7 linked regions of the Homo sapiens genome follow. The protein of the gene in region 4 purifies or fractionates together with the protein of the main gene of each other region. This does not show direct contact. Each region holds a gene or a part of one and is shown on either strand. Other genes may lie near its edges. The genes, in order: PNO1, CSRP2, HP1BP3, USP26, NAA16, IPO9 and ZNF292.

Region 1 (3,500 bases), on a different chromosome or scaffold from region 4:
TAAGTCATTATATGACAACTTACAGCAAAAGGAAAATGAAGGATCTAAAGCTGGAGAACTTAACGCCAGCAAAGGATGCTTCGATAATGTTAGAAAGAGGTGGCTTTAAAAATGTCAGGGTAACAGGAGAAGCAGCTTCTGCTCACCAAAGGGCAGCAGACAAGTTCCCAGATGCCATTAAGAAAATCACTGAGGAGAAATAATATCTGCCTGAACAGGTTTTTTGTGCAGATGAAAAACGTCCTGTTCTGGAAAAAAATGTCACAAAGGGCAATTATTAGTAAAGAAGAGAAGCAAACACCAGGATTTAATGCAGGAAAGGATAGGCTATCTTTACTGTTTTGTGCAAATGCAGTCAGGTTTATGATCAGGACTGCCGTTATCTATAAAGCTGCTAACCCCGATCCTTGAAGGGAAAAGGTAAACACCAGTGGCCTGTCTTCTGGATGTACAAGAAGGCTTGCACAAGGAGAGCTCTTTTTCTGGATTGATTCCATTGATGCTTTTTCCCTGAAGTCAGGAAGTATCTTGCCAGTAAGGAATGCCTTTTAAAGCTCTTTTGATGTTGAGCAATGTCCCAGCCACCCAAGAACCCCATGAGTTCAATACCGAAAGGCAACAAAGTGGTCTCCTTGCACCCACTCTCTAATTCAGCCTCCAGAACAGGTAGTCATAAAGACCTTTAAGGTTCATTACACACACTACTCTATGGAAAATAGTGTCAATGCTATGGAAGAGAACTCGATGGAAAGAACATCATAAAAGTCTGGAAGGACCATGCCATTGAAGACACTGTCATTATTATGGAAAAAGCTGTGAAAGCCTCATGCCTGCAGCTATAAATTCCTGCTGGAGAAAACCATGTCCAGAGGTTTTGCATGACAGTACAGGATTTACGACAGAGCCAAACAAGAAATCATGAAAGAGACTGTGGATATGGCCAAAAGTGAGGGGTGAAGGGTTTCAAGATATGGATCACGGAGAAATCAAGAGCTAACAGACACTATGCCAGAGGAATTAACAGAAGACGACTTGATGGAGGTGAGTGCTTCTGAAGCAGTGCCGGGTGATGAGGAAGATGATGTAGAAGCAGCAGTGTCAGAAAACAAGGTGACATTAGACAATTTGGCAGAAGGTTTCTGATTATTCAAGATGCTTTTGACGTCTTTTATGACATAGACCCTTTTATGACGTGGGCACTGAAACTAAAAACTGTGGAAGAGGATTGGTACCCTACAGAAACATTTTTAGAGAAGTGAAAGGGCAAAAAAGTCAGAAATTACAATGTATTTCTGTAAAGTTCCAGAGTATGCTTGCCTCTCCTGCCTCGCCTTCCACATCTTCCTCCTCTGCCACCCATGAGACAGCAAGATTAACCCCTCTTCCTCGTCTTCCTTAGCTTATTCACCATGAAGACCTTTATGATAACCCACTTCCACTTAATGAAGAGTAGATAGATTTTCTCTTCCTTATAATTTTCTTAATAACATTTTTTCTCTAGCTTACTTTATGAAAGAGTACAGTATATAATACATATAACATACAAAATATGTGTTTATCAACTGTTTGTTATTGGTATAGCTTCCAGCCAAAAGCAGGAGTAGTTAAGTTTTGGGAGAGTCAAGTCATACATACATGGATTTTCAACCATGTTAGGGGTTCAGCATCCCTAATCCCTGCAATATTCAAGGGTCAACAGTATACCTGTGCAATGAAATAGTACTTGCCAATAAAAAGGAACTACTGATACACCCAACAAAATGGAGAAATCCAAAATAACATGCTAATTAAGAGAAGTCATACACCAAAGCCTACATACTGTGTATTTCCATTTATATGAATTTCTAGAAAATGCAAAATAAGAGTGACAGAAACAAGAGCAATGGTTGTCCCAGAAAAGGGTGGGGGCAGGCAACTGACCATAAAGATGCACGAGGGAACTTTCAGGGTAAGAGAACTGTATGAGTGTCATGGGACTACAATATACATTTGCCAAAAACTCATTGAACGGGATACTTAAAACAATAGAATTTTATTGTATGTAAATTATGCCACAATAAACTTCTAAAACGTTGGTTTAACTAGTAAATTTTAGGTTAACACTTACAAATATACTTATAAATTTACCAGTAATAAACTTAATGACAGACTATATAATTTCATTGGCAAATCAGTTAGTTTTAGATTTCTAAATTCTTTTTTTTTTTGAGACAGAGTCTCACTGTCGCCCAGGCTGGTTTCGAATTCCTAACCTCAGGTGATCCACCCGCCTTAGCCTCCCAAAGTGCTGAAATTACAGGTGTGAGGCACCATGCCCAGCCGTTTTTTTTTTTTTTTTTTTTGAGATGGAGTCTCACTCTGTCGCCCAGGCTGGAATGCAGTGGTGCAATCTTGACTCACTGCAGTCTCCGCCTCCCAGGTTCAAGCAATTCTCCTGCCTCAGTCTCCCAAGTAACTGGGATAACAGGCATGTGCCACCACACCCAGCTAGTTTTTTTTTTTTTGTTGTTTTTTTTTTTTTTTTGAGACGGAGTCTCGCTCTGTCGCCCAGGCTGGAGTGCAGTGGCGGGATCTCGGCTCACTGCAAGCTCCGCCTCCCGGGTTCACGCCATTCTCCTGCCTCAGCCTCCCAAGTAGCTGGGACTACAGGCGCCCGCCACTACGCCCGGCTAATTTTTTGTATTTTTAGTAGAGACAGGGTTTCACCGTTTTAGCCGGGATGGTCTCGATCTCCTGACCTCGTGATCCGCCCGCCTCGGCCTCCCAAAGTGCTGGGATTACAGGTGTGAGCCACCGTGCCGGGCCATGGATTTCTAAATTCATGAAAGCTTTCAGGGCTACTCAGCCAGTCCATGACTTGATGATTTAACCGAAGATTTTTTTTTGACTTTATAATTGCGCCAAAGTGGTACACACTCGGAATGCTCTTCAGTTTTCAAAGAGAAGTATCCTATGATATCAAATGAAGTATCAAATGAACTTCTGACTTATGAGATCATTAATTTACAACAGGTTTATCTGGACGTAACCCCACCATACGGTGAGGAGCATCTGTATATGGATTTTAAATTAATTAATTTTTTATTTTTTGGATACAAGGTTTCACTCTGTCACCCAGGCTAGAGTGCAGTGGTGCCATCATGGTTCACTGTGGTCTTGACATCCTTGGTTCAAGCAATCCTCCCACCTGAGCCTCCTGAGCAGCTAGGGCTACAGGTGTGCACAATCACACCTAATTTTTATATTTTTTGTAGAGATGGAGATCCCTATGTTGCCCAGGCTGGTCTTGAACTTCAGGGCTCAAGCATTCCTTCCTCCCACCTTGGCCTCCCAAAGTGCTGGGATTATGGGCATGATCCACTGCGCCCAGACTATATGTGGTATTTTTATTTTTATTTTGTTAGAGTCTCACTCTGTCGCCCAGGGTTGAGTACAGTGGCACGATCGTGGTTCCCTGCAGCTTCAACCTTCTGGGCTCAGGTGATCCTCCCACTTCGGCC
Region 2 (4,249 bases), on a different chromosome or scaffold from region 4:
TTGGCCCGTGAGTCAAGTCACTTACACTAGCTGATATCACTGAAATAAGGATTGCCCATATTTAGAAAAGCTCACAGCAGGCAAGAATGCTTTCCAGACTCCTGCCACAGTATCAGGAGATGTCAATCACCACTATGTGTTTTTGGACAGTACTTGGTGGACAGAGAACAAGGCAGCTATAATGAGTTTATCCTGGATTGGCCCCAGCATATAAAATAAAACAATAATAATATTATAAGTCGGTTCTGTACGTTGTCATGCGGATATGTGCTCCCTGCCCTCTCCCCAAGAGGGCATTTGGCAATGTCCAGAGACTTTTTGATTGTCACAACGTCGGGGGCAGGTTGCAACTGGCATCTAGTGGGTGGAGGCCTCCTACAATGCACAGGACAGCCCCCTACAATAAAGAATTATCCAGCCCAAGATGTCAATGGTGTGGAGGATGAGAAACTCTGGACCAGAGGAGGCAATAGCATTTATGGCATGAGGGGGTTTTGGTCACTGACTTTTTTGAACTCCCCACTCCGCAAGTATCAGTTCTCCGGGATCATTGCTTCTGGCAGGAGAGGTCATGAGGAGGCCTAGAATATGAACCAGATAGAGATTGCATTGTTTATTTTCCTTTTCATCTAAAACAATAAATCATCCTGTAGCTTAGGCATTAGGTCCCTTCGGATGTCACGGTATCCTTGTGCTTTTCTGACATCAACACATATAAATACAGGGCCTGTGGCGCCCGGGGTTTCTGCCTGGGTTTAGGTTTCTTCCCCCTCAGCATCGCGTGCTGTGCCCTGGTGGAGGGGAAGAGCGAAACACTTTGGGAATGGGGCGTTTTCGTAACGTCATTTATTTAGTCTAGATGAATTTTGCTCTTTAAGAATAAGAAGTTGTGGATTCCCAGAAGCTGGAAATCGGACGAGAGAATATGCGTTAACTAGGGAAGTTAATCACGTTGAGTTTACTGACAAGGACAAGGCAAGGGGGAGGTGGCGGAAAGCCCCGTTTGGCTGACTTTCTACTGCTGGAGCCTCCCGGCCCATGACTGTCTCCGCGAAGAGGGGGATCGGCGCTCGCGGTGGACAGGTCCGACGCAGGGCGGCGGGGGCCACTTTCCAGCGGGACCGTCCCGCCGCCGGGCCTCCCTGGAGGGGAAGGAAGTCCCTCTCCAAGTCCCAGTGGCTTTTGGAACTGCCGGGTCCCTTTGGGAGGGAGCGGTCCCGGGACGTGGGAAGATGCCGGGCGGGCGGGAAGCTGCAGGAAGAGGCGGGCCTCCTGCCTTTTGTCTCCTGGTGGCTAGCCCGGAGCGGGCAGAGGGCAGCCCGCCCGCTACACGCCCCAGCCCGGCAAGCGGCTCCGGGAATCCGGCGGGCGGGGCTGGGAGGAGGGCGGGGCGGACACAGGCCGCGCCCACCGAGCGCTCTTTAAAAGGCACCGGCGCGCGCTTCGCCTGGGATCTCGGACTCCCTGGACCCTCCCTCCAGCCCAGCCTCGCTAGCTCCGCCTGCGGTACGTGCTCCCGCCTCCGACTCAAGTGAGTAGGGGCGGTGGGGCGGTTCCGCGGCGCCGCCAACCCCGGGGCGGGAGTTGCAGGGGGTTTCCACCGCCTCCCGGGGTCGTGCTGTCGCCCGGCCGGCGCGCCCCGGTCTCCTCCGACATCCCCATCCCGGTCCGCATTTGTGCCCCTGCCAGCCTTCTCATCCCTGCGCCCCAGATTTTCTCTCTCTTATCCCCCAAACACACCTGCCCTTGTCCCCGAGGCCGTCCAGGCCATGCCCTGGGATCCCAGGCCCGCGGGGCAGGTAAATAATCTTATATGACCTTTAATTTCTCCATACTGGTTTCTCTGGGAGAGAGGCGGGTTGTGAGTTTCGCGTTTCTGCTAATCCGCCTCTTAGCAGCCGTCGGTCCCCTCGTCCAGCGGCAGGCTCTCTCTGGGGTGGGGGTCGGAGTCTCAGGGCCCCCTCTGCCCGGAGTGTGGTGAGCACCGAGGGCGACCTTACTGGGTTCTGTCCCCTAGGGGTGGAATGGGGCTTCTACATCCCCCCGAGCCCAGGGTACTGCTCCTGCCGCCGTACCGGGCTCCTGGCATCCCCATTGTTTGGTGGTGTCTGCCCACCCAGCACCGAACCCCTCTATGTTGAAGGAACAGCAGGGAATGTCAATCACTTACTCCTAGCTTTTTCCAGAACTTTCTACGATTCAGGTACAAAGAAGAATGCAAGAATGCTTGGTTGTGAAATTATGCGACAGGTCCTGCGAATCACATTCTGGGTTCTCCAGAGCCAGATTCAGGAGCTCCACGTAGGCACCCCCTGGGGGCGGGGGCGGGCTTTCTAAACCGGCGGATCCCTTTCCCCCTTCTAAGCCAGGACATTTGTTAAACGATTTTTACTTAAATGGCTACCCAAAATGTTTAACCTGTTTTATTTGCAGTCTGCAAACCAAGCACATTTTCCCTTTATAAATGCTTTTCGGTACAGAATTTTTTTTGGGGGGTGGGGGGGTGGGGCGGGGGCAGTTAGTAATTTTTTAACCCGGGCAGCGAAAATCGTCGTATTTAGTTCTTGACTTTTCCAATTAACCTGTTTTAAAACTCTCCTCATAAAATGCCAAGAATTCAAATAGGACAGCCACAAAGTTGGCTGTACTTTGACTCACGTTTTTCAAGAAAGAATTGGGTGATAGATTTTGAAAGGGAGAATCTAACATAGTTTCAGAACTGCATGCCAAGCTACAAAGAATGTTGTGAAGTACTAAGTGGTCTCCCCCAGTACTCCTGGGGTCATCGCTCTCGTCCATTGTCACTGATACTTTGTCAGTATTTCTCTGGGTCCTTTCTCCTCTGCATTGTAGTTTTCTTTGCTCTTTTGGTTCTGTGTTACCTTTGAGACCAGACCTGCATCACATGAGTCTTTGAAACTCACAGTGCTTGCTTGGGTACCTTGGACAATTGACTGAAAGAAGGAGCGAATAAGGTTGTGATTATAGGGAACAAAAATATAATTTGACTCACACAATAGGTATTTGTTTGCAGATTTGATCTAAAGTTCGTATCATAAATTTTTAATGCATTTCTCCGAATGTATTTAACAAATATTGATTGATACTGGTATAGGCTAAGTACTGTGCTGAAAGCAGTACTTGCTGGAGGCCTGTCCTGATGAAATTGCAAAATCACTTGGATTTGGGGGAGATTGAATTTTATCCTAAAACAGCAAGAATGTTGGTGTAGAGTAGAGGACAGCAATAAATGAGGAGTTTTAGAAGCCTGAGTCCAGAGGCAACTCTGACACTAAATTGCTATAGTGATCTGGGTCTCTAGGTTTTCTTCTTTGTCAAAAGTGAGGTGAATCAAATGAACCCCAAAAGGGAGCCCCCTATGGGAGAGGAGGCATGGCTGAAAGGGGGAGGAACGAAGCCAGGCAGGACCAAATTCACACCTCAACTCCAGTACCCATTGGTTTGATGCCCTTGGGCAAATTAACTTTACTCTTTGGCCTCAATACTTCATCATGTAAAATGGGTGTAGTGGCACATGCCTTGCAGGGTTGTCATAAGGCCTGTTGATACTTGTACAAAGCCCAGCCCAGCCTGGGAGTAGTTCCTTGTAATTAGACAAAGTTGTGCACTTGGTTGAATATATGTGGGAAAAGGCTATCAGTGAAAGTCTGTTTCAGGAGAGAGCTGGCTCACACCTGAAGAGCGTTTCCTAGACCTTGCCTGGAGGCCAGCTTTCTTCTCTGTGCAGATGTTCACAGGTTTCCTCAAGGCACCTTACCCTGACTGCCAGCATGCCATCCCTTGGGTTCTGTTGGGTGGGGATCCCCAGACACCTCTGGATCTTTGATTACCTAGGTGGGGTTTCTGACTTTTTATATCATGGCACTCCTGTGAGGCCTCCAGACCCCTTCTCAAAATGACGTAACATAAAGTATGTGGTACCAAGTTCCCCAACCCCCAGAATTAAAAGGAATTGTGGCCTTTGGGTTAAGAATCCTGAATTAAGGGAATATTTCTCAGTCTGGATAGTGGAGAAGCTGGGCACAATTTCTTTTTTTTATATTTTTTCCTTTTCAAATTCCTTTTTACCACAGGCACAATTTCTGATTGTTAAAAATTTTATTGTTGTAAGTCACAGAGGAAGAACTAATAGAAGTACATGGTGAATGATCTGGAAAGGATATCAGGTTCCTTGTTTTTTTGTTTACAATCTTATTGTGCCAACAATACTATTGTCTTCGACTAATAA
Region 3 (4,151 bases), on a different chromosome or scaffold from region 4:
AGATGGGGTCTAATTATGTTGCCCTGGCTGGCCTCGAACTCCTGGCCCCAAGCCTCATGCAATCCTCCCACCTCGGCCTCCCAAAGTGCAGGGACTACAGGCGTAAACCACCATGCTCGGCCTAAGTTTTGTTGTTGTTGTTTTAAGCAAAAATCTGTGGAGGAGGAAACATCTCCCAGTTTGCTCTCATCTGAGTCTGCTTCTTACATGAGATGGGTCTAAAGACATTTTAGGGTAAAAGAAGAACGGTAGGATGTTTTAAATGTACGAATACATAAAAATGGAAGTCTTTGAAAAGGAAGACAACAGAAACGTTAACAACGAAGGGAGTGAGCAGAATGAAGAATGGCATAAAAGAGCAAAACCCCTTCTGAACAGCTGGAATATGACACCAGAGTACTAAAGACTGGTAATGCCATCAGGATATGAATGATAACGCACACCTCGTAAAGAATTTTTTATGCTGGCTGTGAAATTTGAACTGATAGAGTGGGGTGGCTGTGGCAGGGAAAGCTGGTGAGACAATTATGCTAATGGCAGGGCCAGACGACTGGGTGAGTGCTTAAATGGTGTCGTAAGTCTTTATAAACCTTGGCACATACGTTTGAGTACTGGTCATCTACTGTAAGCTTGGGACAATTCTACTGGTATTTCCTTACATTTATTACCCAGTCCCTCCCCTGTCCCCCAACACCTGAAACTTTAAAAACAATCTTTCCAAACTAGCTTTGAAGAGCTGTACTTTTCCTTCGTATGTACGTTGTTTAAGTACGCTGATAGCAACGCAATATGACAATTCAAAGGGAATCCCGTCTTCTAATCTCAGGGTTTTCATTCTGGGGAACTCTCCCTGCATGTGAGGATTAGGGAGCCCGGAAAGCCCGTTTCAACTTTTCAGTTCTGAGTCCCGAGTCACTACTCTGCCCTGTACCGTCTGGAGACTTAATGGGAGCGAGTGCGAGGCAGTGAATTCTCCGCTCTCTAGTTTTCCAATTCTACGGTCTTCAAAAAAAGGTTTGCTCTTGAGCTGCGCCTAAACTGAGAAGCGGGAAAGGCTAGCCCCGCTAAAGGCGGACGAGTGGCAGAAGCGGAAACCCAGTTAAGAGAAGGGACTGCCCTGGAGAGCACAGAAAGCGAAGGTTAGCGGGGGAAAGCGGCGCCCCTCCGAGGAAACCGACACCGCCCCGCCACGCCAAGGCAATGGGCGCCACCACGCAGCGCCGGGAACGCGCGCCGACGCCCCGCGCTCCGCCGGCGTCCGCCCGTCCCCGCGCGCCCCCTCGCACCCCACGCGCGGGAGGCGGGGCCGGCGGGGGCGCGCGCGGGGCCGCGGGTAGGGGGGCGGGGCGGCAGAGCTCGGCGGCTGGGACTGGAGGACAGCGGTGGCGGAGGCGACTAGCGGCGGCGGGAGCGGCGCCGAGAGGCCGTGCGGGACGCGGGCGCCAGGACCGGCCGAACGCAGAGGTAACGCAGGACCGAACAGGCGGCCGGGGAGTGGGCGCGGGCTCGCTGGGCCCCGAAGGCGAGTGGCGGAGGCCGCTCGCCCGGGGCGCCGACGCCGCTCCCAGAGAGGAGGGGGCGGGGCGCCCGGGTCCCCGGAGGTGGCGCCTTTTGTCTGCCTTACCCGGCCGCTCCGCCCCGCTCCCTTCCTCTCTCCTGCGACCTAGCCCCCTGCCCTTTTGGTGGACTCCTCCTCAGGGGCCCTCCGGCGCGCGCGCTCCCGCCCTTGTTTTGTTTGGATTTGGGGGAGGAGGGGGAGCTCTTCTCTGGCCGTGCGACCCTGCGTCCCAGCGCGCCTGCGTCGGCGTCCTCTGCCCGCCCCGATTGGCTGAGGGCTGCGCATGCTCCGAGGCCCGCCGCGGTCCGGCGTCCGCCCGCGCCCTCCCCTCACCCCACTCCCTCAGCGGTTTTCGGAGCCGGTTCGAAAGATGCCGGCGGCGGTGACTGGCTGCGGCGGGCCCGCCCCCCGGGTTCTCCGCCCCCGCCGCCGCCATTACGGAGCTCCCAGTGGTGAGTGTGCGGAGCGCCGAGGCTCGCGTTCCGCCGCTGCTTCCGTCGCCGGGGCGGGCGCCGCGGTGTCCCTGCCGAGCGTGAGCCCCGAACTGTCACCGCGCCGAGCCCCAGCCTCATCCGTCGGTGTCCGCGGTCCGAGCTTTCCCCGCCTCGCTGGCGGCCCGCGCTCTCCCCCGCCGTGCGCGTTCGCCGCTGTGGCCTGTAGCTACCTCGCCTCGCTGCTTTGTCTCCGCTGCTCTTGCCGTCCTTCCCGCGGCCTTCTGCGGGCGGGGCTGTCGGCTGTCGCTTTGCTGCTCCGCGACGGCGGCCTTGAGTCTCGCTCCCCCGGTGGGAAACGTAGAACTGGTTACTCGCCACCTTAGGCGGTGGGGTTTGAATGAGAGCGGTGCCTCGGTAGGTCGTCAGAAAGTTACAGTCGCCCATCTGAGCGTTTGTAAGAGATGGAGGCAGGAGTGGTGAGGTGAGAGCCCCAGATCTGAGGGTTGGTACTGCATTAACAGCTGTGACCGGGGACAGCCACTTAACCTTTTTGAGAAAGAGTTGTCTCCCGTACGGAGACCGGACCGGGTGAACTGTGCTGCCGCATCCGCGTGCACGTTCTCTCTGTTGTTTATTGTGCTTCCTGACTTTGCATTGCATTAAAAAGTGAGAATCCAATTCGAAATAACGTCTAAAAATCGCCTGGGGCTTTTTGAGCACGCTGTCTTGTCTTAGAGTGAAATTAGAGGTGACTAGTGTCATTTTTGAAAGGTGCTCTAATTTTGTTTAACCTGACATAGGCAAAAAACTTGTTAGCTTTTTGATTTTTCATTGCTCTTCTCAAAAGTTTAGTGTAATTTGTTTCAAAATAGAAGTAACATTTTAAAGTTTGCTGGGTTGGTTGGTTTTGGCTTTGTTTTTAAGCTTGCTTGGAAGATTGTAGGGCTGGAAGTTAGTGGAGAACGTATACTGAACTCTTCATTTCCGGATGAAAGTTTTAACTCCTTACCCAGTTAGATTGTGATTTTATTGAGATGAGACACTGTAGTGTCCTTAGTATCTATGCCCAAAACAGACACTGAGTATATGTTTGCTTATATAACTTACATTTGAAAATGAAAAACAAGTGGTGTCAGCAGTCAAATTACAGGCATGCTTTTTGTGACATGACTCGTTAAATCTGAGTGTAGTGAATGACTTAAGATTGGGAACAATGTGAGGTGTTCAGCGCATCACTAATGACATGTATTACATATATTTTATGGTAAAATGTGAAATTATAGTGCTTTCCCTAAAATGCATATTATCAAGGATATCAGTAAACTGAAATACGTTGTTAAACTCCTCACTTTTCTACAGCCTTCTCTTAATGTAGAGGAAATAAATTAAAACTGAAATTTGGGGCTTTTTATTTCTACAATACTTTTTTTTATTGCTTGCATTCAAATAATTTAAAGCCGTGCATGGTGGCTCACACCTGTAATCCTAACACTTTGGGAGGCCAAAGAGGAGGATCGCTTGAATCCAGGAGTTAGAGACCAGCTTGGGCAACCCTGTCTCTACAGAAAATACAAAAACTATCCGGCTGTGGTGGCGCATACCTGAAGTCCCAGCTACTCAGGTGGCTGAGGTGGGAGGAGATCGCTTGAGCCCAGGAGGTCGAGGCTACAGTGATCCCTGGTCATGCCACTGTACTCCAGACTGAGACTCTGTCTCAAAATAAACAACCGATTTAATTTAAGCATTTCCCTTGACAAAAAGCAAATATTTGTTATTGTTGTAACATTAAGTTTAAGCAAGCTGATGTTCATAAGAGGACCATGTAAACCACAAGTAAACTCAGACTGTTTATTTTTGGCACATATAAAAACCAAGATGAAAAACATGAATAGGCCGGGCACGGTGGCTCACGCCTGTAATCCCAGCCCTTTGGGAGGCTGAGGTGGGCGGATCACGAGGTCAGGAGATCGAGACCATCCTGGCTAACACGGTGAAACCCCGTCTCTACTGAAAATACAAAAAATTAGCTGGGTGTCGTGGCGGACGCCTGTAGTCCCAGCTACTCAGGAGGCTGAGGCAGGAGAATGGCGTGAACCGGGAGGGGAGGTTGCAGTGAGCCGAGATCGCGCCACCGCACTCCAGCCTGGGCGACAGAGCAA
Region 4 (3,961 bases):
AAGGTGCTGGGATTACAGGCGTGAGTCACCACGCCCAGCCCTACCAAGTTTACTTTCAACTGTAGTCTAAATTTATAATTCTCTGACCAGTCAGGAGACAGGTATGGGCTAGGTTATTTTTTTGCACTGGATTTTGCAGAATTTCTGCAACCTAACAAATGCAAACATCCCAGTACAAATCTGGGTCCTTCTCGCCACATCCAGCCCGGTGCTAACTGATGCCAGTGCTGACAGCACTCCCTTGCACCCCAATTCTAATGTTTTCCCATATTCCCCACCTGATAGCAGCAAGAGAGGGCCTGGTAAGAGAGGGAAAGGATCAGTGAATGCATCATGGAGGCGGCTGTGTTTGAGCTGGGACCTAATTGGTGGACAGAGATGGGGGGAAAGGAAATTCTAGTAGGAGGCTGATTACTCTTAAATAGTGGTCTACGACACAGACATTGGTGCTAGAGGGTCATGGATTCAAACGCTAGTATGGCCATTTCCTAGTTCTACTCGTGATCCCCTTCCTCAGTCCTCTTATCACCCCACATCCATTCTCCCAGTCGTATAAACTCTCTCCTAACTGCTTATGCTCACTTAGTTTAATGCCCATTCTGTTTAACTCACCTGCAATGGCGGCACCATCCCCAATTTAATGCCCTTACTTCCTATGCACAATTGTTAGGTGTACAGCTATTTAGGCTCATTTTTCACTGTAGATCCCCGTCCTGGCATCACGCCCGTTCCTTTTTCCCAAACGTAAATGCTGAGGGGTGGGTTTCAATTCCCTGCTACGAATTGAGTCTCATCCCAATGGTAGAAATGGCTGGGAAGATCTTTCCCGTACAAGGCAATAATATGCAAAAAATGTAAAAGCGGTTGGCGCGTTATTTGAATTCATTGCGGGAACCACGCAGAAAGTCTCGTGGGAGTTACTTTGTGATAGTTTTTTCCTTCCATTCCCCACAGTTCCTGCCACTGCACGCGCAACACCTCCAAGCAATAATCCTTCCCACCAATAAGGAGCAAAGGCCCGGGGTGTGGACGGACTTTCCTGTTATAGAGAAGGTGGGAGTAGACAGTATCCTGGTCAATTGTTTCAGTCACAACCAATCAGGATCTTTGAGGGTGGAGCCATACACTGGCAATAAAAGAAGCCTGCCCCTGTGGCGGGGCCCATTTTGTTTTCGATCGTTAAGTGGGCACGTGGTGGAGCGTTGGTGTGTCAGGGGTGTCGACTTCTTCCACAAACTATTGTAAGATCAATTTGCTTTTCATTTGTAATAGTTATTGAGAGTTAGATATTTGTAGTGTGCTTTCTATATGTGGCTATATGAAATGTAGTAGTATACTTTTTCTTTTCTTTTCGTTTTTCTGTTTTTGTTTTTTTTGAGACGGAGTCTCATTCTGTCATCCAGGCTGTAGTGCAGTGGCATGATCTCGGCCCATTGCAACCTCCGCCTCCTGGGTTTAAGCGATTCTCCTGCCTCATCCTCCTGAGTAACTGGGATTACAGGCGCCTGCCACGACGCCTGGCTAGTTTTTGTATTTTTAGTAGAGACAGAGATTCACCATATTTCTCAGGCTGAGCTCCAACACCTGACCTCAGGTGGTCCACCCGCCTCAGTGTCCCACACTGCTGGGATTACAGGCGTGAGTCACCACGCCTGGCCTCTCTTTCTGTTACTTTGGACCTGGAAAGAATCAGCTTCCCATTGGGAGGGATTGTGCACGGTATTAGGACAGTTAATGGCCATTAGCTGCTGCGATGTTGTTTGTATTTCTTTCTTTTAAAAATGTAATATTTGTGGTTATCTTTTGGAGTCGGTTCTTTCATCCACTCACTTTCAAATAAAAGAAAAGTTTTCTGGTGTTTAAAACTTGAAAATGTTGTCTGGTCAGTGCAGGAATTGTTCATTGACAACTTCAGATAGCCTCCTGTTGGTCATTCGCTATTTTGCATTTTTATACAGTATAGTTGTGAATTTAATTGTATTCCACGAAGAGTGCTTCTCATATTTTTCATTCATTTGCCTTTAAAAGTTTGGTCTTAATTGCAGTTGATGTTTTACAAACAATATGGATGCTCTGCCTCTCTAGCTGTGGTGGCTAGTGTTTGTAATCCCAGTGCTTTGGGAGGTGGGAAGGAGGCTTGAGTCCAGGAGTTAGAGACCAGCCTGAACAGCAGAGGGAGACCTCATTTCTACAAAAAAAAAAAAAAAAAAAAAAAAAAAAAAATTAGGCCGGGCGCCGTGGCTCATGCCTGTAATCCCAGCACTTTGGGAGGCTGAAGTGAGTGGATCTCCTGAGGTCAGGAGTTCGAGACTAGCCTGGTCAACACGGTGAAACCCCGTCTCTACTAAAAATATGAAAATCAGCCAGGCGTGGTGATATGTGCCTGTAATCCCATCTACTGGGGAGGCTGAGGCAAGAGAATCACTTGAAACCAGGAGGCGAAGGTTGCAGTGAGCCGAAATTGTGCCACTGCACTCTAGCCTGGGCGACACAGTGAGACTACATCTCAAAATAAATAAATAGCCAGATGTAGTCTCCCCGAGTAGTCTTGGCCACGTATGAGGACCTCTTTAGCCCAGGAGGACGAGGCTGAAGTGAGCTGCGTCTGTGCCACTGTACTGCAGCCTAGGCGACAGAGCGAGACCCTGTCTCTTAAAAAAATATTGTTGGCATTGGAAACTTCATAGGTTTCTTATGAAAGGTTTTGTACAAGTTTCAGTTTGCAGTAGAGGAAATTAACTGTCGATTGAGTGCATTTTATAACAGAACAGCCTATTTGGTATAATTTTATTTGTCCAAATTCTGGTCTTGTTTCCTCTTCATTAATTTCCTTATAAAATAAAAGTTTTGGAGTAATCTTGATTTACAAATGCACAATTTAATCATCTGGCTGTGTCCTTAATGTTTTGCACCAGTGACTGCACTTAAGTGTCTTATCATCGGCTGCCATTTAATGGAATTTGGAATTTTATTTTACAGAGGAATTCTGTGTTAGGTAGCATTTTATTCCATTAAATGTGGGTCCTAGTCCTTTTCATAAATTTTGTGTGAAGAAAGTTTTGTATTATCTTCAATTTACAAATAACGAAAAGAATTTTCTAATTGAAAGAATGTTTTGTGGCATTTTCTTTCTTTTCTTTTCTTTTCTTTCTTTCTTTCTTTTTTTTTTTTTTTTTTGACAAGAGTCTTGTTCTGTCGCCCAGGCTGGAGCGCAGTGGCACGATCCCAGCTCACTGCAACGTCTGCCTCCCAGGTTCAAGTGATTCTGTTGCCTCAGCCTCCCAAGTAGCTGGGATTACAGGTGCCCGCCCCTATGCCCAGCTAATTTTTCTATTTTTAGTAGAGACGGGGTTTCACCAAGTTGGCCAGACTGGTCTTGAACTCCTTACCTCAGGTGATCCACCCTCCTCGGCTTTCCAAAGTGCTGGGATTACAGGCGTGAGCCACTGTGCCCAGCCCGTTTGTGGTATTTTTAATGTAAAAATGCACACATTGCTAATTTGCCTGAGAGCTTGTTTTAGGACACTAAATTGTCACAAGTGCCAATCACCAGCCACTGCAGAAAGTTTTTTGGGATATCATATCCTGAAACAATTGTGTGTTGAGGTTCAATGTATTCAATTCTGCTCGAGTTTTTTGCATACGTTTCCTTTAAAAGACGGAGGTATTTCAGTGTGTAAATGAGGAAATTAACTGTAACGTCAAATGTTTACTTTCTGGCAGTGAACAGCCGTTGGAAGTCATGTTGCCTCATCTGAATTTTATTGTACAGTATAGTTGTGTGTTTAATATAATGGTATTTATACATTTTGGCATAGGTCCTCTTTCCAAGGTGTTCCTTCCCAGAAAAAAAAAAAAAAGGTTTCTATTTAAGAATAAGGAGGACAGAAGTTGTCTAGGGCCAGGTTAGGAGAGAAAATGGAAGTAGATCCTTCTAGATCCTTCTGGATCTTCTGCTCGC
Region 5 (3,500 bases), on a different chromosome or scaffold from region 4:
GCCAGCTCTTGGTGAGAAGTTAATTCTTCTGTTATCTGGACATTTTTTAACCCAAACATCTTTCTAAAATTATCAAACCATCCTTTGCTGGACCCTCAAAATTCAAACCTATGTTGTTCAAAGGCCAACTGTACTAGACTTACAGTGAATAAACCAGAAAACTAAATATTTCCTTAAATCTGATCCCAAAACAACTATTAACACTTGAGAAAATCCTGGAGGTGCTATCTCTTTGTAGCTACAACATTTCTAGTAAGACATATAAGGTAAAATGATTCCATATGTAATGGACAATTGTATTGCTGCTGTAACAAATTACCAAATATTTATTGACTTAAAACAACACACTTATTATGTTATAGTTCTTATAGGTTAAAAGCCCAACACAGTCTCACTGGGCTTACAATCAAGGTGTCAGCAGGACTGCATTTCCTTTGGAGATTCGAAGGGGGAATCCGTTCAATGCCTTTTTCAGCCTCTCTAGACTGCCCACACTCCTTAGCTTGGGGCACCCTCCTTCCATCTTCAAAGCCAGCAACAGCAGGTTGAGTCCTCCTCACATTGCATCATTCTGACCTCTGCTGCTGGCATCCTCAACTTTTAAGGCCCCTTTTGACGATATTAGGACCACATGGACAATCCAGGCTAATCTATCTTGAGGTCAATTCATTACAACCATAAATTCCATCTCCCACCTTAATTCTCCCTTGCCATGTAAGGTTACATATTCACAGGCTGGGGGGACCAGAACACAGACACCTTTGCAGGGCCATTACTCTGCCTACCACAATTGCAATTCTATGTATAACTTGCATTAGCCAAAATTTGTATACTGTCACTCAAAGATAATTGACGGCTATTATAAAAACCTTGAAATATTTCAAATGGCTTCTTACAGATTTAAATAAATCATGTTAACTGTCAGAACGGAACCAAATAGCATAAATTTTACCAAATAACAAAGATAGTAAAACCCATCTCACCCTTTCTAATTTTTCAGGTATAAGTTCTTCCTTAAGGCCACTGGCTTCTTCTTCTTCTTCATCTCTTTTTTTCTTTTGATTTTTCTGTTGACGTTCTCTTTCTGCATGCTTTCTTTCTTCTTCTAGTTTAGCCTTTTTCTGAGCTCTTCTCTGCTTGCTAAGCATTTTCTTCAATTCTTTGGCTGACAAGTTTTCTATAAATATCCAAATGAACAAAATTCTGAGCCAATGTTTGCATTTTCTTCATATTCTTCTGTAATACATACTGTTAGTATGGTTGTCCCTTGGTATCAGTGGGGGATTGGTTCATGACCCCCACCCCCACAAAGTCCACTGATACTCAAGCCTGTGATATAAAATGACACAGTATTTCCATACAACCTATGTACATCCTCCTGTATACTTTTAATTAGATCAGCTTTAAATCTTTCACCTTCCTTTTGCTTTAAGTTGCATATAATGACTTCACTTTTTCATAAATTATATTATGGTCTATAGGTATGCCTAAAATAATGTAAATGCTATGTAAATAGTTGTTACACTGCATTGTTCAGGAAATACTAATAATGACAAGAAAAAAAGTCTGGACATGTTCAGTACAGATGCAATTTAAAAAAACATATTTATGATTTGTTCCACCCATGTGGAACCCACAAAAATGGAGGGCCAGCTGTATACTTTTTTTTTCTGTTTTTTGTCTGGGCAAGGAGGGATGCAGAGGCAACCCATATAAAAGCTTTTAGAAAGTGTATCCCCAGTGACTAGAACAAAATTGGGCACACAAAGGACAGCCAGTAAATGTTGCATTAACTAAAATTGACCAATAGTAGCCCAGTTCTGCCTCCTACACAATATATGACTCCAGGCAAATCACTTTGTCCTTCTCAGTATCAAGTCTTTCAAGAATAAGTGAGATAATACATATAAACACCTGTGATCTCTAAATACTATATAAATATTAGAAATGAACAGCTACCTAGGAATATCTGAGATAGTTACCTAGGCTCATTTCATGCTAACTATTTCTCAAATATTCCTAGATATTAACATTCTAGTGAATAAAAAACTGTACAGATATTCTCACTGATATTCTTATTTTTAATAAAGTAGGAACTAGAAATTTTAAGATTATATATTTTTTCCTAAGGAGCTCAAAGCTATTTTCAGTTACAATTTTTTAAAAAAGAAAGAAAAAAACTAGTCCACAGACATTTCTATGTTTCCTAAACTCGTCTTTTTAAAATTTTTGTAGCGACAGGGGTCATGCTATGTTGCCCAGACTGGTCTTGAACTCCTGGCCTCAAATGATCTGCCTGCCTTGGCCTCCCAAAATGCTGTGATTACAGGCGTGAACCACCATACCCAGTTCTTAAATTGGTCTTTCTGAAGACAAAAATAAAAAAAATTCTAAGTTGTTCCATTAAAGTAATTTAGAACCATCAGCTACAGAATATCATCCCACTTTTTTTAACTCTCTCTGCAACATTTTTGTTTTTTGGCATATGAGTTATCTAATGTTTGTCTTCAACTCCAACAGACAATATATTAATATTTTTCTAGGTATTGTTTACGCTAATGGCATTCTGAAATTTAGTGTCCTTTTAAAATCTTTTAAGTTCCTATTCAGTTACCTGAGTTTATTTCTTGTTGTTTGCTTTCATTGGTTAAGGGATTATCATACAATTTCAAGTATATTTCAATCGCTGATCTAGCAGCCTTGAAATAAAAGGCATGTCTTCTGAGTATATCTTCTAATCTCAAAAGGTCAACATAGGCACGAAGGGTCATCTTTCTCATGCAGTATGTATGGAAGTCGAATTGGTCATCAGTTATCTCAAAAAAATGCTTAAAAACAAAAATCACAAAATTAACCTTTACATTTATGTCAATAATGTCTACCTTTAGAAAAAAAAAATTGTAAAAAGCCCAAAAAACAATTTAAACAGTCACAATTTTCACTTAGCTGCCCTCTCCAATGTTTTACACTATAAAGGATATGAATTATTTTTGGCATTCAACTTGAACTTTCTCTTCCTACAAACCATGCCCATTCCCTACAAATCATGTTTTGTGATGATACTCAACTTCTATATAAGTCAAAAGATCAGGTTATTTTTTAAACCTGAAAGTTAGTATATATTAATATTTTAGTTTTAATGAAATACTCTTCCTCCATATTCCCTAAAAACCAGCATGGCACAGTTAAACAGAGCTCTGAATGAAGACTAAATATGTGTAGGTTCACACTAAATATTTACAAATCTGACTGCTCTACTCAACTCTACCATTTTCAAGGGCAATCCTTACCCACCGCCTGCCACAGGGCCTAATACATAGCAGACATTCAGTAAGCACAGTATTTGCCCACTCAAGAGATAAGCTTCTTATTAGGGATGCGACCCTGAATAAGCCTTTTAATTTCCTAGACAATTATTTAATCTAAGTTAAGAATAAAGAAATCCATACAGCCAATTTCTTAAGGTTGTTAAAGGATCAAATAATGTATTTTAAAGTTCA
Region 6 (3,500 bases), on a different chromosome or scaffold from region 4:
TCCCAAAGTGCTGGGATTACAGCCGTGAGCCACTGCACCCAGCCCACATTTTAGTTTTACCCTGGTAGAAGGAACCTTGTTTTCTGATTCTAGGAAACACTTTTTTTTTTTTTGAGACCGAGTCTCACTCTGTGGTCCAGGGCCCAGGCTGGAGTGCAGTGGCATGATCTCAGCTCACTGCAACCTCCACCTCCCAGGTTCAAGCAATTCTCGTGCCTCAGCCTCCCAAGTAGTTGGGATTACAGGCATGCACCACCATGCCTGGCTAATTTTTGTATTTTTAGCAGAGGCGGAGTTTAGCCATGTTGCCCAGGCTGATCTTGAACTCCTGAGCTCAAGCAGTCTGCCCACCTCAGCCTCCCAAAATGCTGAGATTACAGGCATGAGCCAACCGGCCAGGCCGGAAACACTCTTAAAACTTGAAGTTAATGAGAAATCTGGGATTTGGTGTCTATTATTATTTGTGTTCTGGTAATCTTTTGATCATTTTTTGGTTCCATGGGGCCCAGGATCAGGTGACAACCAGATCTAGTCCTCCCTCTGTCCTCTCAAATAACCACACTGTCTTTGTGAGCTGTTTATTAGTCCATCACATAGGAGACTGATCCCACATGGTCTTTAAGATTAACTGGTCCGTTCCCTTTGCCAAAAACATTTGTTACCTTCCTTGGCTACCAGGTGATGATCCCTTGTCTTGAAGATTAAATGGAAGAATATCTAATTTATGGGGAAAGGACACAGGTCAATTGTCAACTCCCTGTTAAAAGGACAGGCAAGAGAAGTTGACATGCTGTGACCAAATTGTACTATAGATGAGATTTTAAGAAGCAGTTATCTTAGAAAATAAAGATTGCTGGAGCCTAGAGTAGTCCTGATCATTTAGTGTACCAGCTGATATTTTCTGATAAATAAATAAATTGCCTATAATTAATTATCACATTTTCCAGAATGGGCACCTGTTCTCTTAAGCCAAGGAAGTGTGTGTATGTGAGAGATCCATTTGATTCATGTAGCGTGTCAATCTGAAAAGGATAAGATAGGTTACTTCATCAGCCTGGTGTCCTGGAATGATTTTTTTTTTTTTTTTAATTTTATTTTTTGAGACAGAGTCTCGCTCTGTCACCCAGGCTGGAGTGCATTGGCATGATCTCGGCTCACTGCAACATCCGCCTCCTAGATTCAAGTGATTCTCATGCCTAGGCCTCCCAAGTAGCTGGGATTACAGGCGCGTACCAACACGCCAGGCTAATTTTTGTATTTTTAGTAGAGATGGAGTTTCACCATGTTAGCCAGGCTGGTCTCGAACTCCTGACCTCAGGTGATCCACCCACCTTGCCCTCCCAAAGTGCTAGGATTACAGGCGTGAGCCACTGCGCCTGGCTGGAATGATTTTCTTGAGCCCCTGTGCTTGCTATTTTTGCTAGTCACTTGGAATCTGGAAGAAACCCAGCAAACCTCTCTGAATATTTAAAGTCTATTTAACAGGGCTAATTAGATAAGGAGATGATGCCAGTAACCACCTTCATCAGATAGCACTCCCATCCTGAATTGAGAAGAACATTGCTTGAAAGTTTGGAAGTTATTATGGTGTACAGTATTCTGCAGATAATTGTTAACCTTTCATTTTTCTTTCTTTCTTTTTTTTAAGATACAGAGTTTTGCTCTGTCACCCAGGCTAGAGTGCAGTGGTGTGATCATAGCTTACTGCAGCTTCTAACTCCTGGGCTTACGCAGTCCTCCCAACCTCAGCCTCCCAAGTGGCTGTGACTACAAGCACATGCCCATACTTGGCTGATTTTTTTAGTTTTTTTCTGGAGATGGGGTCTTGCTGTGTTGACCAGGCTGGCCTTGAACTCCTGCCCTCAAGTGATCCTCCTAAAGTGCTGAGATTATAGGCATGAGCAACCACACCTGGCCCCTTTCATTTTTCTTAGGAGGATTGAGATTTTGAGTTTGATCAGGTTTGTAGGAAATTTACTTCTACCTAAATAGGGTAAAAAAAATTTTTTTTAAGTTTTTTTATTCGTTAGAGTAAAAAAACTTTTCTTTTCTTTTTTTTTTTTGTTGCACTGCTAAGAGTCTAAAGCATGCTTTCTAATTCTGTTTTGTTTAATAGGCAGGTTCATATTAAGCACTTTACAAACATAGTAGTTAAAAAGACTGGAGAGGTTATGAACCACCGAAGATCTCTTACGTCAAAGTCTCATATTCTGTACTCAGCTTCATCAACTCTTTTTCTTTTGTTTTTGTCTGACTTACGGTGAGATCATGAGAATTACCATCTTTTGAGAATGTCAGCCTTTTATTTTTGGTGTATTCGTGCTTTATTTTTTTATATCTTAAAATGAAGTTCTTTCCCTCTTTTTCTACTTCTTTCTCTACTTTTCCTCTAAGAATGGCATTATCCAAGTGGTGGAATGGGTTGCTTTCATTCAGAAGCTTTAATTCTTCGTGCCAGCATGCACAGACTTTCTTACATAACTAGATTTAGACCCTAGGACATTTTCTTCTTTGCTTATTTCTTTTTTGCCTATTACAAATGATGACATTTCCCCTATCATTTGGCCTTGTCTAGTTCCCAGTAGATAAGTCACAGAGAATACATTTTTCTTCCCTTCTACCACCATTATGTTGAACAGGGGAGGGGGGAAATTATCTCTCCCTCACCTTTCCTGGCATTCAGATGCTGCCGAGATACCTGTATTGATTTCCCCATCTTAGATGCCTAGAGAGATGATCCTGCTGGCTGGAAGTTTGCTTTCTGGTTCTCATGGGCACTTTTCTGGCTCTTTTGCAGTATAGCGTAAGCACTGTCCACCTGCGAAGGGCGCCCCTCAAGGATCCAGACGCACTCCTGGGCATGTGGCGGGCACTGAGCCGAGCGGAAGGCGGCCACGCTCGGAAAAAGGCCAGTGGTGGAGTTTTCTTTTTCCTTTCAGCTGTGGTTTTGTGGTGCTTACCAACTCCCATGAGAAATAGGGGGCTTGTCCAGGGGGTCTACTCAAAACCGCATCCTTCTCCAACAATCCCTGTTCACAATTCTTATTAGTTGACTGTCAAAGTACTGCCAAGTCTTGTCTCTCTAGGAGACCCTTCAGACCAATAGCATGTATTTCTTAAGTGATCCTTTATCCTCCATGCTCTCCTTTGGGTTTTCCCTTCTAAACCAAGTTTTAGATAGATAATGTTTTTGCCATATGGGGTGATAAGAGAGAAAGGGGAGCAAGGATAACGAGAGGGAAGCAAAAGACTAAAAGAGAATGAGACTAGAGAATGAAAGAGGGCAGAGGATTTCTTAGGAAGTCAAAGGATGCCATTTTGGATAGGAATAAAGGTATAATTAAGGAGAATCTAGAGTCAGGGTGAAAACCCAGATTAACAGAATGAACTGTCCTTATTTCACCATGGGAAAGGGAACTAGAGAAATTAAATTTCCTAACAAAAATAGCTTTAGAAAACAACTTCATATAGCCCTCTTGGCAGTGTTGCCCTTTGGCTCA
Region 7 (2,879 bases), on a different chromosome or scaffold from region 4:
ATAGTTCATTTCACCTGTTTAAGACTTACTACCAATAAGCATAAAACCTGACACGTTAAAATCCCTGCCCTTTGGTGAGCCCACTGTTATTTATTAAAATAAAAGTTATTTTATGGGTGATTAATACATGGGTTTTCTTTTTCCTAAATTAACAATAATTTAAATAACTGAGTAATTTTAATATTAAATTTTTGTTAACAACTGAATGTTTCCATACAGTTTTCTTAGAAATTGACCTAGCTCTTAAAGGTGGGCACTTGGCAAAACTGCCCTATATAGCACAGTAGCAAGTAGGTTTATTTCTGATCATTGTAACTATGAGCCACTGTTAAGTGAAAATGCCAATGTATTGGGGCTTTTCTTTTGCTCATTAGCTTAAGAAAATTTATAACTAGACATTTCTAATTGTTTTACATGTCATGGGGAAGAGTTTGCCAACATTTAATGAAATTTTTATATTCCAGGTAATGTATACTAAAGGTAATTATGAGAGTGGGCTTTTTAGCATGAAACAAAAAAAATCAAACTATGGTAAAAAGACATGAATTTATAGAATAGCATGTTGGTAAATTTTGATACGGAATGTAATGTCTAAGTATTAAAAAATCATAAAATATATTTTTTTCATGGTATACTTTTCCCCAGCCTATTGTCTTGAGATATCTTCTACAGCCTAAATTTGCTAAAGTTTCATCACTAAAAAGTAGGAGTTTTTCCTCTTCTGAACCCGCAAAGTTTGCATATTACAGGTCAGAATTGTATTATTCAAAATACATCACCTTAAGTGAAATGTAACAGTTTTTGAAATTTTCAACGGTGTTAAATTTAACATAGGTACATTATTATTTTAAAGGGCTAGACATATTTTTAAGGCAAATTTTTATCAAGTGAGCAGTCACAGTTGCTGTAGATAATATGAAAGTACAATAATACTATACCTAGGGACATCAGAAAGAATGCCCTATTTTTCTGGAAAAGGAGGTAGGTAGTTGGGAAAGTCTTTGTAGAAAATATGAGTTTTGAAAGATGAATGAATGCTCATTGGTTCAGGGGGACAAGGGAATTCCAGACTTGGGGGTAGAGCGTAATTGCGGTATTGCCAGTGGGCCACTTGGAAAGATAGGAAGTTGAAGAAGGTGAAGCTGAAGAAGCAGATGGGTGGTGGGATCAGGAGTGTTCTTGTATGCTGTATTAAGTCTTTATTTTGGTTTTTGAAAATTGTTATTGGATGCATGTATATTGAACAATTTAATCAGTATCAGTTTTAGAAAGATAATTGTCATGGTATAGTGGATAAATTGAGTAAGTTGGAGATTAATTAGGGGGACCTAAAATAGTCCAGGCAAAAAATGATGGGAGCCAGAAGAAAGGCTAACGAAGTTGGGGAAGAGACTAATGGATAAGAGAGATAATAAAAAGTAATGTCTAAGGCAGCCTGTTTCAGCATGTTTATTGTAGTGAGATACTAGGCAGGTGGAAGGTTATTGCTGTGATGAAATAAGTTTTCTAAATTGTGTGCTGTAGTTCTCTCTCTCTCTCTCTCTTTTTTTTTCTTTGTTTTTTTTGGAGACAGAGTCTCGCTCTGTTGCCCAGGCTGGAGTGCAGTGTTGCACGATCTCGGCTTACTGCAACTTCTGCCTCCCAAGTTCAAGTGATTCTCCTGCCTCAGCCTCCCCAGTAGCTGGGACTACAGATGCATGCTATCACACCCAGCTAATTTTGTAGTTTTGGCACAATCTCAGCTCAGTGCAACTTCCATCTCCCAGGTTCAAGTGATTCTCCTACCTCAGCCACCCAAGTAGGTGCACACCACCACACCTGGCTGATTTTATATTTTTAGTAGAGACGGTTTCACCATGTTGGCCAGGCTGGTCTTGAACTCCTGACCTCAGGTGATCACCCACCTCCACCTCCCAAAGTGCAGGTATTACAAGCATGAGCCACCACACCCAGCCTCTCTTAAATAATTTAATGCATGTTTGCATATTAAAGACAAAAGTTCTACTGTAAATATGTAAAAAGTTGAAAGGGAATTTTCCAGACTTAATTGACCCTGAGAACATTTTTCTTCTTTTAATGTTAATACTTAGTTATATCCCACTGAACTAGCATTCTAAAGAACACACTTTGGGAAATGCTGATCTCAAATGGCATTTATTCAACCAGGACTGATAATCAACGTGTACACCAATTCAATTGTATCAGCTGTTTGCAAATGGTGATTATTCTGATTGATCAATTTATATATCCCAATGGGTTGATTCCTTTGCTGTATTGGTTGTTAATGTTTTGAATATTACCCGGTATTCAAGTAATGCTCATTGAATTTCAAGTAATTGTGATTAAACGTTGATTAAAATCCAGTCATACTTGCCAGAAGCCCCTGCCTTTAAACATTCTTATCCTACTTCCCATTTCCCACTCTTCTCATTTCATTGAACGCATAGTAACCTTCCTTCCCCACTTCAAAGCCTATCTGGAATGCTTATTTCTCTTATTTCTATGGGTGACTCCATATCCCGTCAGTTCACAGCTTAAATGTCACCTCATCGGAAAGACACCCAGATCATAAAGTTTCACATGCCCATTCTTTACAACAGTTTTTTAAAAAATACTTACTTTAATCTATATCTTCCAACACTACCAGTCAATGAAGAAAATGATAATAATACCTGTGTTCTTCAATGACTTTGCCACAATCAAACCCCATATCACTTCCAAATCTTGAATTCAATTTATTTTTCTGGCCACAAACTTGTAGCTCACCTGCTCAAGATATCTCTGCTAAAAGAATACTTCTACCTTATTACTACCACTTGCTGACTATTCATCAGCTTACTCCTGTCCTCAGCTTGTTCAGCCTAGAAACTAGCTAGATC

Evidence for each region.
Region 1: the proteins of USP26 (region 4) and PNO1 purify together in Homo sapiens (affinity purification with mass spectrometry, with the first as the bait; one large-scale study listed by BioGRID). This does not show direct contact.
Region 2: the proteins of USP26 (region 4) and CSRP2 purify together in Homo sapiens (affinity purification with mass spectrometry, with the first as the bait; one large-scale study listed by BioGRID). This does not show direct contact.
Region 3: the proteins of USP26 (region 4) and HP1BP3 purify together in Homo sapiens (affinity purification with mass spectrometry, with the first as the bait; one large-scale study listed by BioGRID). This does not show direct contact.
Region 5: the proteins of USP26 (region 4) and NAA16 purify together in Homo sapiens (affinity purification with mass spectrometry, with the first as the bait; one large-scale study listed by BioGRID). This does not show direct contact.
Region 6: the proteins of USP26 (region 4) and IPO9 purify together in Homo sapiens (affinity purification with mass spectrometry, with the first as the bait; one large-scale study listed by BioGRID). This does not show direct contact.
Region 7: the proteins of USP26 (region 4) and ZNF292 purify together in Homo sapiens (affinity purification with mass spectrometry, with the first as the bait; one large-scale study listed by BioGRID). This does not show direct contact.

What each region holds. Positions count from the first base shown.
Region 1 is NC_000002.12:68,164,388-68,167,887, reverse strand, and holds part of PNO1 (RNA-binding protein PNO1), read right to left. Parts: intron 2,951-3,500; coding exon of another isoform or gene 2,929-2,950; exon of another isoform or gene 2,014-2,928; intron 1-2,013. UniProt on the Homo sapiens protein: Part of the small subunit (SSU) processome, first precursor of the small eukaryotic ribosomal subunit.
Region 2 is NC_000012.12:76,876,220-76,880,468, reverse strand, and holds the start of CSRP2 (cysteine and glycine-rich protein 2), read left to right. Parts: upstream 1-1,449; 5' UTR 1,450-1,530; coding exon of another isoform or gene 1,531-1,531; exon of another isoform or gene 1,532-1,799; intron 1,800-1,818; exon of another isoform or gene 1,819-2,110; intron 2,111-2,186; exon of another isoform or gene 2,187-2,301; intron 2,302-4,249.
Region 3 is NC_000001.11:20,784,508-20,788,658, reverse strand, and holds the start of HP1BP3 (heterochromatin protein 1-binding protein 3), read left to right. Parts: upstream 1-1,351; 5' UTR 1,352-1,464; intron 1,465-1,986; exon of another isoform or gene 1,987-2,473; intron 2,474-4,151. UniProt on the Homo sapiens protein: Component of heterochromatin that maintains heterochromatin integrity during G1/S progression and regulates the duration of G1 phase to critically influence cell proliferative capacity.
Region 4 is NC_000023.11:133,094,310-133,098,270, reverse strand, and holds the start of USP26 (ubiquitin carboxyl-terminal hydrolase 26), read left to right. Parts: upstream 1-1,161; 5' UTR 1,162-1,241; intron 1,242-3,961. UniProt on the Homo sapiens protein: Deubiquitinase regulating several biological processes through the deubiquitination of components of these processes.
Region 5 is NC_000013.11:41,366,767-41,370,266, reverse strand, and holds part of NAA16 (N-alpha-acetyltransferase 16, NatA auxiliary subunit), read right to left. Parts: intron 2,829-3,500; coding exon 2,615-2,828; intron 1,178-2,614; coding exon 984-1,177; intron 1-983. UniProt on the Homo sapiens protein: Auxillary subunit of the N-terminal acetyltransferase A (NatA) complex which displays alpha (N-terminal) acetyltransferase activity.
Region 6 is NC_000001.11:201,832,157-201,835,656, forward strand, and holds part of IPO9 (importin-9), read left to right. Parts: intron 1-3,500. UniProt on the Homo sapiens protein: Nuclear transport receptor that mediates nuclear import of proteins, such as histones, proteasome and actin. Serves as receptor for nuclear localization signals (NLS) in cargo substrates.
Region 7 is NC_000006.12:87,263,565-87,266,443, forward strand, and holds the end of ZNF292 (zinc finger protein 292), read left to right. Parts: 3' UTR 1-2,379; downstream 2,380-2,879. UniProt on the Homo sapiens protein: May be involved in transcriptional regulation.